Linked DNA regions of Homo sapiens. The protein of the gene in region 1 purifies or fractionates together with the protein of each later gene. This does not show direct contact. Each region holds a gene or a part of one and is shown on either strand. Other genes may lie near its edges. The genes, in order: RDH10, ERGIC1 and RAB39A.

Region 1 (3,651 bases):
TCCAGCCTGGGCGACAGAGCGAGACTCCGTCTCAAAAAAAAAAAAAAAAAAAAAAAAAAGAATAGAGTTTTGTTCCAGGCAAAGGAAAATGAAAGATGTATATAATAAACTGCCTTCAGACAGCTTGCCATCTACTTTGGGAGAATGATAACAAATGCTGTGAGAGATTAATGGAAAGAAAAGAAAAACCTTAGATGAGTCATTTAACCCCAACTTCACTGGAAAACAAAGGGTTGAACAAGAAGGTCTCTGGATTCTTGCAACTCTAATATCCAAAAATGCCAGAAGTGCTGCAGTGGGAAGGAAAGGTTATATTGAAACTTGAGCTACACCTTAAAAGACACGTGGAATGGAGGAAGAGGGTGTTTCAGGTAGAGGGAATAGCATGTGGACTGGTTTGGGAGTGCCCACAGCTTTTCAGTGGAAGTCCACATGGTTTTCTATTTCACTCACTTTTGCTCTGAGTCAGGATCAACATACTACTTGTTGAAATACAGGTATTAACTGCTGAAAACAGATATTAACGGTTACTTAAATGTCTGGTTCAGGATGATCTGTTCAAATGACTGAACAGTTCTTTGCTCAGCTGATGGACTTTTAAAAATGTATGGGGTAACTTCTTTTCCATACCCAGATACAGTAAAAAGACACACTCATTATTTTTTCTAGAAGGAAAACAGCACATGCCAACGTCAACACATCTTTGAAAAGTTGCCACCAACGCTTCGCATAAGAGGACTACTGGAAGGGAAGCTGAATTCAGGTGGCTCTTGTGACACTCCTTAACCCCTGTTAAAAAATTCACTGTAAAATCTATACTGAATTTTCCTTTAAATTTTGGTTGCTGAATCAAAACTTCTCAAAAGATTTGTAAATTTCAGCAAGAAGTCAGAAATTCCAACTCTAAAATGAATTTTCTGACTCAATATTGAAAATAAATTCTTAAGTTTAGATGCTTAGGGGAAAAACAGCTGGAGAATTCAGGAGCCTCCCATATTTTAATACAAAGTGACGTCATTACCATCAAGGCTTCCAAGAACTCCTTAAATTGTGTGGTTAAGCAACATCTCAAAGCACAGTGATGACTCTAGGAAGGTGCTATGCTCCTCCCTGGTATACAGATTCAGGTCCAGAATAATTTTTCTATTTAGAGATTTGATTTGACTTCCTCCTTATGTTAAAAAGTAGCCTAATATTAGAAAGACGGTATATCAATTTATGTGCATTTTCAAAGCTAAGGCTATGAATTTTCTGTGCTTTACACACACTAAATTAGCATTCATTTTATCAGATGTCTTCCTGGAGCTGGTTTCTTGTTTTAAGTATTTAACTGCAGATTGTATGGGGTTTCTTAAAAACCTGATTACACTTAAAATTTTACAATTAAGCAAAATAATCATGCAGACAAAGTAGGCAAGATGGCTAAACTTTAGAATACCTGGTGTAGGTAAAAGTTTAGTTATGTAGTCTTGCATCATCTTAGTCAAAGGTTACGGGAGAAAACAATCCCAGTCAGTATCTGCGGTTCATAATGAACCTACTGATAGTGCTGTAACTGTTTAGGGCTGACTTAAATCAACTGCAGTTTTTACGGCAGCTTCATCTTTACCATTCTTCAAATATGAAAATGACACTTCGCCTCCCACTTATGTATGTCTTTTATTTCAAATGGTAGTTGTTTTACTCAGGATTAGTCATAAACACACAAGATTCTTGATAAATTCTATGTCAAGTTTATTTGGTTGGACTGCCTTTTATTCATCTAACCACCCCTTTGACACCTGCTGCCTGTTCCTGGGGACCCAGCCACAGCAAGGACTTTAATTCAGTTCCCCACCCCCACTGAACACAACACACACCTACAGGCAAGCTGAAGTTGCCCAAACTGTATTTGGTGATTTCCTTACTTGTTTAAAACATATATAAGCTCAGGTCATTTATATATTCATTTCTAGAGGTTTGTAAATGAATTAAATAAAGTTCATGTTGGCCGGGTGCAGTGGTTTACACCTGTAACCCTAGCACTTTGGGACACTGAGGCGGGCGGATCACCTGAGGTCAGGAGTTCGAGACCAGCCTGATCAACATGGTGCAACCCCGCCTCTACTAAAAATACAAAATTAGCCGGGCGTGGTGGTGCATGCCTGCAATCCCAGCTACTTGGGAGACTGAGACAGGAGAATTGCTTGAACCTGGGAGGTGGAGGTTGCAGTGAGCTGAGATCACGCCATTGTACTCCAGCCTGGGCAACAAGACCAAAATTCCATCTCAAAATAAATAAACAGGCCAGGTGCGGTGGCTCACGCCAGCACTTTGGGGGCTGAGGTGGGTGGACTGCCTGAGCTCAGGAGTTCGCAACCAGCCTGGGCAACACCATGAAACCCCATCTCTACTAAAATACAAAAAATTAGCCAGGTGTGGCAGCATGTGCCTGTAGTCCCAGCTACTCAAGAGGCTGAGGCAGGAAAATTGCTTGAACTTGGGAGGCAGAGGTTGCAGTGAGCCAAGATCGCGCCACTGCATTCAGCCTGGGTGACAGAGTGAGACTCCATCTCGAAAAATAAATAAATAAATAAATAAATAAAGTTCATATTTAAAAATAAAACATTAAAATAAGCTTCCTCCAAGAGCAGAGAAAAGGTTTGATGCTTGAGGTGCAACATTTGAATAAGTACTTTTAATGCCAGATTAAGTTTTTAAGCAGTTGCTAAAAAATTAATGAGGTTTAATGTGACCTATTTAGGAGAAACAGTTCTTTGTTGTGTTCTATTAGAAGGCTAATCCGCCTATGGAAAAAAAAAGTAGAATCCTATTTCTTTACTCCTTCTTTATTGAATCGTATCTGTCTACAAAAGGAAAGGGAAAATACTGTGAGGAAAAAGAGCATAAAGTGGGTCAGCAGTGTGCAGTTATAGGGGACAGAGTCACACCTACCTTTACTGAAGACAACTTGAGATGAAAAACTGGGGTTACTTTTGCCCCTAGAGCAGCAGAAGGCCCTGCTCCCCTCCGTAGATCATGACATTGTTTAATGGTTAGAAGCGGACATTGTTTAAATCCCCAGCTTACCAGGTTTCACCACCTCGCCTCCCTCTCTAGGGTCCTATTAGGGTGATATTTGCGAGGCACTGTCTAACCCGAGAGAGTCCCGAAGCGTCCTGCAACAGGAAGATGCCCTGGACCCAATGGATGGTCAGGAGATGCGAAGTAACTGCCAGGGTGGCCTGGGCACTCCCAACAGACCACAAATGTTGATTTCAGAATCTTTGGCACTTTCCAAAATGTGGCTGAGCAGTAATTTGGAAGCCTAAATCCTGACTTTAGAAATTCATAAGAACAACCAATGTTTTATAAACTCAACAGAAAGTAAAATAAACAAACCCAGGGTTTTACGCTCCTTCGTGTTATTTTTATGGCAATCTTTCAAACTAGTTCAAAATGTTCAATCCTCTGCCCTCTCAAAAATACTGAGTTAGGGGTGGCGGGGGGGTGGGCGGGGACAAAACGACTAACAGTAACCAGCATACACTGCAGTTTACCATAGGGAAGAGCTAAGGAGACCTTGTGGCGAAAGAGTACAGGTTGCTTTCAGGCTGGCACTGAAGTCTCTCCCCTTCCCAACCTTCTCATTAAGGAGGGCCCAGCAAAGAA
Region 2 (3,651 bases), on another chromosome or scaffold:
CGAGAACAGGTGAGGGGTGCCAAGGAAAGGGGCCCAGAGCAGGCGCAGGGTGGCTGGCTCAGGGCCCCACCCACTGCCCCAGGCCACTCACCGTGGTGATGAATCTGTACAGCGGCTGCCGTCTCTCTGTGTACTTGACCGTGATGGGGCTGAGGTCGTAGCGGAACCAGATTGCAGGGATGATGCGGCCCGTGTGGCTGTAGGCGACGTATTCCTGGGGTAGAGGATATAAGAATCAGAAGTACAAACTGTGTCTCAGGGGGGGCGGGGACTGGATTGCAGAGGGCCCCCCAGCAACCCTCCAGAAAGGGCTTTCCTCCCTCTCTGCCCCACGAAGCCAGACTCCCCCACTCCCTCTCTCACATCCCTTCCCCTGGAGGCCCTGAACTCTGCCGTGCACAGCTGGGCATTTTTGATACCCTTGGTTGTTTAGAAATTGACCAAGTGAGCTGCAAGCAGCACCAGAATCAGAAAATAAATTAGAAAGCAGAGCTGTAAAAGGAAAAGTGCAATTTTTGGCTATTGCCTCCTTCAACCTCTGGGCCACGCGAAATCCATTCATTTATTCAACAATGGTTTGCTGAACGCCTCCACTGTGGTGGCCCATGGCTGGCTGCTGGGGACCCCGAGGTGAGCAAGTCCTGCCCTTTACCCAGAGGGAGTCGCAGTCTGCAGAAGGAGGAAGACATAAGAATATCCCTAACACTGTGACATCATGCATGTGGGATGGAGGAACATGGAGAGTTGAGGGGAATGAATGAATGACCCATTCTCCCGGGCGGCATCTGGGAGACTGGGGAGGGGACATTCTGAGCCACACATGATGAATAAGCAGGAGTCCCAGTGTGTGTGTGTGTGTGATGGGTGTAAATGCCACGTGGGGAGTGGGCTAGCTTCTTCAGAGGAATAGACTGAACTGCAAAGCCAGAAGGCCCCGCCCTGCCACCAACCTTCCTGAGAATGCACACAGCAGGGACTAAGGATACTACGAGGCTGAGCTAACAGTGCATCCTTGGGCCAGCCCCTCCCTCCCTCAGGGACTTGGCTTCCCCATCTAAACACGGATGGGCCTGGGATGATGATCCCTGGGATCTCTCCAGTTTGGGCACTTCAAGGTGCTAAAGTCTGCAACAACTGGAGGCCAAATTGAACCACTGGGGTACCCCCAACCCCACATGCTGAGCCTGAGGAGCCCAGGCCACTCCGGGGGTAAGTAACACTGAGCCCTGACCTCCCGCTGGGTCGCTGCTGCCTGCTCCCAGGGCAGAGTGCGGCTGCAGCCATAGAGAAGCTAAGCAAGCTGTATTTGGCTGCTGGGCCTTGCCAAAGCATTGGGAAAAGGAGCTTTGTGCAAGGGAAGACCAGCTTTCTCCAGGAGAGCTGCTGGGGCAGGATGACTGTCTGGGTCACAACCCAGAGCTGAGGGACAGAGAAAAAGAGTGAAAAATAGCAGCAGTCAGTATCACTTACCTAAAGGCTTTTTTTTTTTGGTGGGCTAGGCATTTTTGAAAACATTGCCTCATGTGACAGCACTCTTATAAAGTATCATCTCCATTTTATGAATGAGTAAACTGAGGCACACAGTGGCTATGTGACATGTCCGGGGTCAATAGCTAGTGAATGACTGAGCTGGAATTTGAACTGCAGCGTGGTCCTGAGCTTGCATCTGTGCTTTTCCATCTGTTAGCTGCTATGAGCATGTGAGGGTTACAATGAGATGCCCCCTGTGAAACAGTGAATAAAAGAAACAGGGGCTCCCGGGAACATCAATTTAGGGTGAGTCAGAACAGAGGGACTAAGTCATTGGACAGAGAGCAGCTCGCAGGTGGGCAGACTCACAGCCCCTTCCTCAGACCGAGGCGTGAGGTGATCAAGAAGCCAGGCTCTGGAGCCCAAGGAAAACCTGTTCTAATCCCCACTCAGCCACTTTATAGCTCTACAACCACCTCTCAGTGCCTCAATGGTCAAATCAACAAAATGGGCTCAATAACAGTCTCAACATCAGAGCTGTCATGATGATTGAGAAGACGGAAGAAGAGAGCTTAGCATGTCTAGCCCCCAGGAAGTACTCAATGAGTGACAGCTATGCCTCCTACTGTTGTTATAATTAACTGAGCTAAACAGGTATCACTTATAAGGGGTTTGGGCAGCCTTGGAACAGAAGAAAAAGGACAGTCCTGGTGGTAAGTGGGAAAAACCCATCCGCCAGGGTCTAGCAGGGGCATTTCAACCAACAGGTTTCAAGTATTCATGTCCCATTGGTGGGATACCCCCAGGGAAGCCCAAGGCTGTCTTGTCTTGAGACCACTAATTGCTGGGTCATCCCACTCTGCAGACTCTGACCATGCTCTGCTGCCCACTAAGGCCTGGCGTCTTCTCCATGACTTTGAGTGTTGGGGTCCTGGGGACACCCCTGTCAATCAACAGCAAATTAATCAACAGCCATCTTGGTGTGACTCAGTAGCCTCATGAGTTTGGGTAAAGTGCCTGTGCCCTGAGAGCAGGAGTGTCTGTCTGTGTTGAGCACCCAGGGGTCTGTGTCTGAAGGACTCGGACCAGATGCAGGGCTGTTTGAGACCTGCAACCCCAGGACCTTTGTAGGACAGAGACTACCTGCTCTTTGTCAAACGCATCACACCCTATCTCCTGGTTAGATCTGTTCTCCTTGACTCTGAGACTGCCACATGGCAGGGACTGGGCTTTTCAATTTTACCCAGGGACAGCGCCTGGCCCAAGCTAACCCCCAGGAAAGGCCTCCAGAAAGGAATCAGAAGAAAGTGCGTCGGTGCAGCCGCCTGTCATCTCTGCTCTCCGTCAGCAGAGGGCGCCGCCGCACACAGCTCGGCCCAGCCACCGCCCGCGCACCTTGTTGGCCACCGTGTACTGGTAGGAGTACCGCTGCTTGCCACTCTTGTCCTCATAAACCGTGGGCACAATCTTCAGGATGTAGTCGTGGGAGGCCAGGGCTGCGGGAAGGACACAGCAGAATGAAGCAGGGGGACGGGCACTGCCCGCTGACAGCTCTATGTCATTTCAATCCTAAGCCTAAATTCCCTGGGCACGGCAGGGGGCTCATTCCCCAGTTTTACCACCAACCAACTGCTCTTCATCTTCTCCCCTTGGATACCGGGAATTGGGAGACTCTATCCATCAGGATCTTTCCTCCTGCACTGTGCACATCATTAAAATTCTGGAAACAACCCAAATGTCCATCAATAGAGCAACCATGAAAGAGTGAGTGTTGGCCAGGCGTGGTGGCTCACGCCTGTAATCCCAGCACTTTGGGAGGCCGAGGTGGGTGGATCATCTGCAGTCAGGAGTTCGAGACCAGCCTGCCCAAGATGGTGAAACCCCGTCTCTACTAAAAATTCAAAAATTAGCCAGGCGTGGTGGCAGGTGCCTGTAATCCCAGCTACTCAGGAGGCTGAGGCAGGAGAATCGCTTGAACCTGGGAGGCGGAGGTTGCAGTGAGCTAAGGTCATGCCACTGCACTCCAGCCTGGGCGATAGAGCAAGACTCTGTCTCAAAAAAAAAAAAAAAAAAAGTGTGGGTGCTAGGAGCAGCTATTCTCCAACAGGGAAAAGAACCAAGTCATGGGACAGGATACACATGTGTCCATGGATTGGGGGAGGAGGAGACACTCTGTATCCA
Region 3 (3,651 bases), on another chromosome or scaffold:
GCGGAGGTTGCGGTGAGCCGAGATTACACCATTTCACTCCAGCCTGGGGGACAAGAGCGAGACTTCGTCTCAAAAAAAAAAAAAAAAAAAAAATAGAGACAGCCTCCCTCCTCTCCCTTCCCCACAGAATCTGGGAGCAGCCCCTAACTATTACCACTAAATCTTCCCGGCCTTTGCCTGCCTCTCCATGTTTTTTCCCCTAGCTCCTCTTCTGCTATGCATCTTTCTCCTTGCCAGGTGTCTTACTGTTACAGGAAAGGGGTCCCGATCCAGACCCCAAGAGAGGGTTCTTGGATCTTGCACAAGAAAGAATTCAGGGCAAGTCTGCAGTGTAAAATGAAAGCAAGTTTATTAAGAAAGTAAAGTGGTGAAAGAACAGCTACTACACAGACAGAGTAGGACGTACCTGAAAGTAGCAGGAGGAACGCATCCGCCCTAGGTACAATGCTTGTATATATATGAGGAGATGTGCTCTCTGCCACAAGGGTTTGTGATAAAGGATTAATTTTCTTTCTTCTTCTTTTTTTTTTTTTGGAGACAGAGTCTGGCTCTGTCGCCTAGGCTGGAGTGCAGTGGTGCGATCTCGGCTCACTGCAAGCTCCACCTCCCGGGTTCACACCATTCTCCTGCCTCAGCCTCCCGAGTAGCTGGGACTACAGGCGCCTGCCACCATGCCCGGCTAATTTTTTGTATTTTCAGTAGGGACAAGGTTTCACTTTGTTAGCCAGGCTTGTCTCGAACTCCTGACCTCAGGTGATTCACCTGCCTCGGCCTCCCAAAGTGCTGGGATTACAGGTGTGAGCCACCGCGCCCAGCTAATAAAGGATTAATTTTCTTAATTACCACATTTTGCAAGAATCGATATTATTATCTTTAAAGCAAAATTAGGAATGCCTTTGTTCTCCAGATATTGGAATATCTGGACACTCCCAAGTCTGGGTCTGTTTAGTAAACATTATTAATTTGTTCCCTTAGCCATAAACATCTAGAGGCTAGGAATGCCCAACTTTCTGGGGAACGCAGCCCAGCAAGTCCTGGCCACTTTTTTTTTTTTTTTTTTTTTTTTTGAGACAGTTTTGCTCTGTCACCCAGGCTGGAGGGCAGTGGTGTCATCCTGGCTTACTGCAACCTCTCCCTCTTGGATTCAAGCAATTCTCCAGCCTCCCAAGTAGCTGGGATTACAGGTGTGTGCCACCATACTCAGCTAGTTTTTGTATTTTTAGTAGAGACAGGGTTTCAGCATGTTGGCCAGGCTGGTCTCGAATTCCTGACCTCAAGTGATCCGCCCACCTCGGCCTCCCAAAGTGGTGGCATTACAGGCGTGAGCCACTGCACCTGGCGTCATTTTCCTAGCCCTTGCTCAAAATGGAGTCACTCTGGTTCGAATGCCTCTGACATTAGTCCCCCTCCAGCTTATTTTTATTTTTTCTTTACCCCTTTCCTCTGTCTATCCATACTGATGTTTACTTTCATCCTCTTCCCCCCACCCCATTTTTATTTTAATGTGTCTCTTACTCTTCCATTTCCTTTTAGCTTATCTTCCCTTATCCCACTGGCTTATCTTCTCTTCTCCCACTGGCTACCGCATGTGTCTGTTTTCTCTTCTGCCTCTTCCAAACATCCATATAAAGTTAATGTTTCAAAGTGATTTAATTTATGTACTCTGTTCTTAATTTTAAAAGCAAGCAATATTAACATTTTAAATTTCTTCTTAAGAGACTTTTTAAAATCTCTAAACTAAATTAGTTATTTTTGGTTTTGTTTCTTTTTAAAAAGTCCCTCATTTGATTCTCAGCTCCCTCACTGTGGTTCATGGCCTTCAAAAGAAAACGATTTTTTGTTCCTTCAGTAGAAAATGATTGGTACCAGTCTGGCAAACATGGTGAAACCCCATCTCTACTAAAAATACAAAAACAAATTAGCTGTGCATGGTGGTGCACACCTATAATCCCAGCTACTTGGGAGGCTGAGGCAGGAAAATCCCTTGAACCCAGAAGGTGGAGGTTGCAAGGTTGCAGTGAGCCGAGATTGCGCCCCTGCTCTCCAGCCTGGGTGACAGAGCGAGACTCCCCCTCCAAAAAAAAAAAAACAAATGAAGAAAATGATTGGTGGGTCCATAATTGCATAGGTAACAGAGCAGAGATGACCATAATCACTGCAGTCTACTGTAGTTCCAAGTTATTGTTAATAGAAAGGTCAGCTATAGTTCTATTATCAGGTAATATAATGTCTTAGTTAAAAGTGTATTGTAAGTAGTAGAAATCTAGCCAAATTCATTTATTTATTTGTTTTTTAGAGACAGAGTTTTGCTGTGTAGCCCAGGTTGAAGTGCAGTGGCACAATCATAGCTCACTGCAGCCCAAACTCTTGGGCTCCAGTGATCCTCTTACCTTAGCCTCCTGAGTAGCTAGGACTACAAGCACATGCTATGGCACCCAGCTAATTAAAAAAAAAAAAAATTTGTAGAGACAGGGTCTCGCTGTATTGCCCAGGCTGGTTTTGAACTTCTTGCTTCAAGTGATCCTCCCTCCTTGGCCTCCCAAAGTGTTGGGATTACAGCCATGAGCCACTGCACCAGGCCCAAATTAGTTTAATAGGGAATAAATTATAAATGATACAGATTTCATGAAAGCAAAAGCTCACTGAACATCCAGGTGTTTGGAAGTATGGAATTATTACTATTTTTTTTTTTTTTGAGATGGAGTCTTGCTCTGTCGCCCAGGCTGGAGTGCAGTGGCGCAATCTCGGCTCACTGCAAGCTCCGCCTCCTGGGTTCAAGTGATTCTCCTGCCTCAGCCTCCCAAGTAGCTGGGATTACAGGCACCTGCCACCATGCCCAGCTAGGAAGTATGAAAAATTTTAAAACAAGAGTTTGTGGACTTCCCCTCTAGTCTATTTCCCTTCTCCAACTCTGTTGGCTCCTAGCTCTCAGTCTCTGAGCCTCTTATTCAAACTCTTGAAAGAAAAAATATCTCATTGACTACTTAACTATCCAGTGAATCAGCTCCCCTGCAGTCAGGTTATTGAGTTACACAGACATATAATACAAATGTATTATAACATAAATATACTAAGTAGGTATTATGGGTCAGATAATGTAAATGTATCTGTAAAGGTCCACTTTTTTGGAAAGAGAAATTCACAGAGAAGGGAAATGAGCAGTCACCCCCAAAGTGTCTATTTTATGGTGTTTGAGAGTAAAATGGTATATAAGAATGAGATGGCCAGGCATGGTGGCTCACGCCTGTAATCCCAGCACTTTGGGAGGCCGAGCCGGGCGGATCACCTGAGGTCAGGAGTTCGAGGCCAGCCTGGCCAACATGGTGAAACCCAGTCTCTACTAAAAATACAAAAATTAGCCGGTTATGGTGCACACCTGTAATCCCAGCTACTCGAGAGGCGGAGGCAGGAGAATTGCTTGAACCCAGGAAGAGGAGGTTGCAGTGAGCCGAGATCACGCCACTGCACTCCAGTCTGGGCAATAGAGCAAGACTCCGTCTCAAAAAAAAAAAAAAAAAAAAAGAATGAGACAGCATCGTTTCTAACAAGTGCACCAGAGTGCCAAAAGATGATCTGTGTAGCCAGACATTTTTAGGCACAGTGGCTCATGCCTGTAATCCCAACACTTTGAGAGGCCAAAGCGAGTGGATC

Evidence for each region.
Region 2: the proteins of RDH10 (region 1) and ERGIC1 purify together in Homo sapiens (affinity purification with mass spectrometry, with the first as the bait; one large-scale study listed by BioGRID). This does not show direct contact.
Region 3: the proteins of RDH10 (region 1) and RAB39A purify together in Homo sapiens (affinity purification with mass spectrometry, with the first as the bait; one large-scale study listed by BioGRID). This does not show direct contact.

What each region holds. Positions count from the first base shown.
Region 1 is NC_000008.11:73,297,451-73,301,101, reverse strand, and holds part of RDH10 (retinol dehydrogenase 10), read right to left. Parts: intron 1-3,651. UniProt on the Homo sapiens protein: Retinol dehydrogenase with a clear preference for NADP. Converts all-trans-retinol to all-trans-retinal. Has no detectable activity towards 11-cis-retinol, 9-cis-retinol and 13-cis-retinol.
Region 2 is NC_000005.10:172,931,751-172,935,401, reverse strand, and holds part of ERGIC1 (endoplasmic reticulum-Golgi intermediate compartment protein 1), read right to left. Parts: intron 2,967-3,651; coding exon 2,866-2,966; intron 215-2,865; coding exon 92-214; intron 1-91. UniProt on the Homo sapiens protein: Possible role in transport between endoplasmic reticulum and Golgi.
Region 3 is NC_000011.10:107,934,859-107,938,509, forward strand, and holds part of RAB39A (ras-related protein Rab-39A), read left to right. Parts: intron 1-3,651. UniProt on the Homo sapiens protein: The small GTPases Rab are key regulators of intracellular membrane trafficking, from the formation of transport vesicles to their fusion with membranes.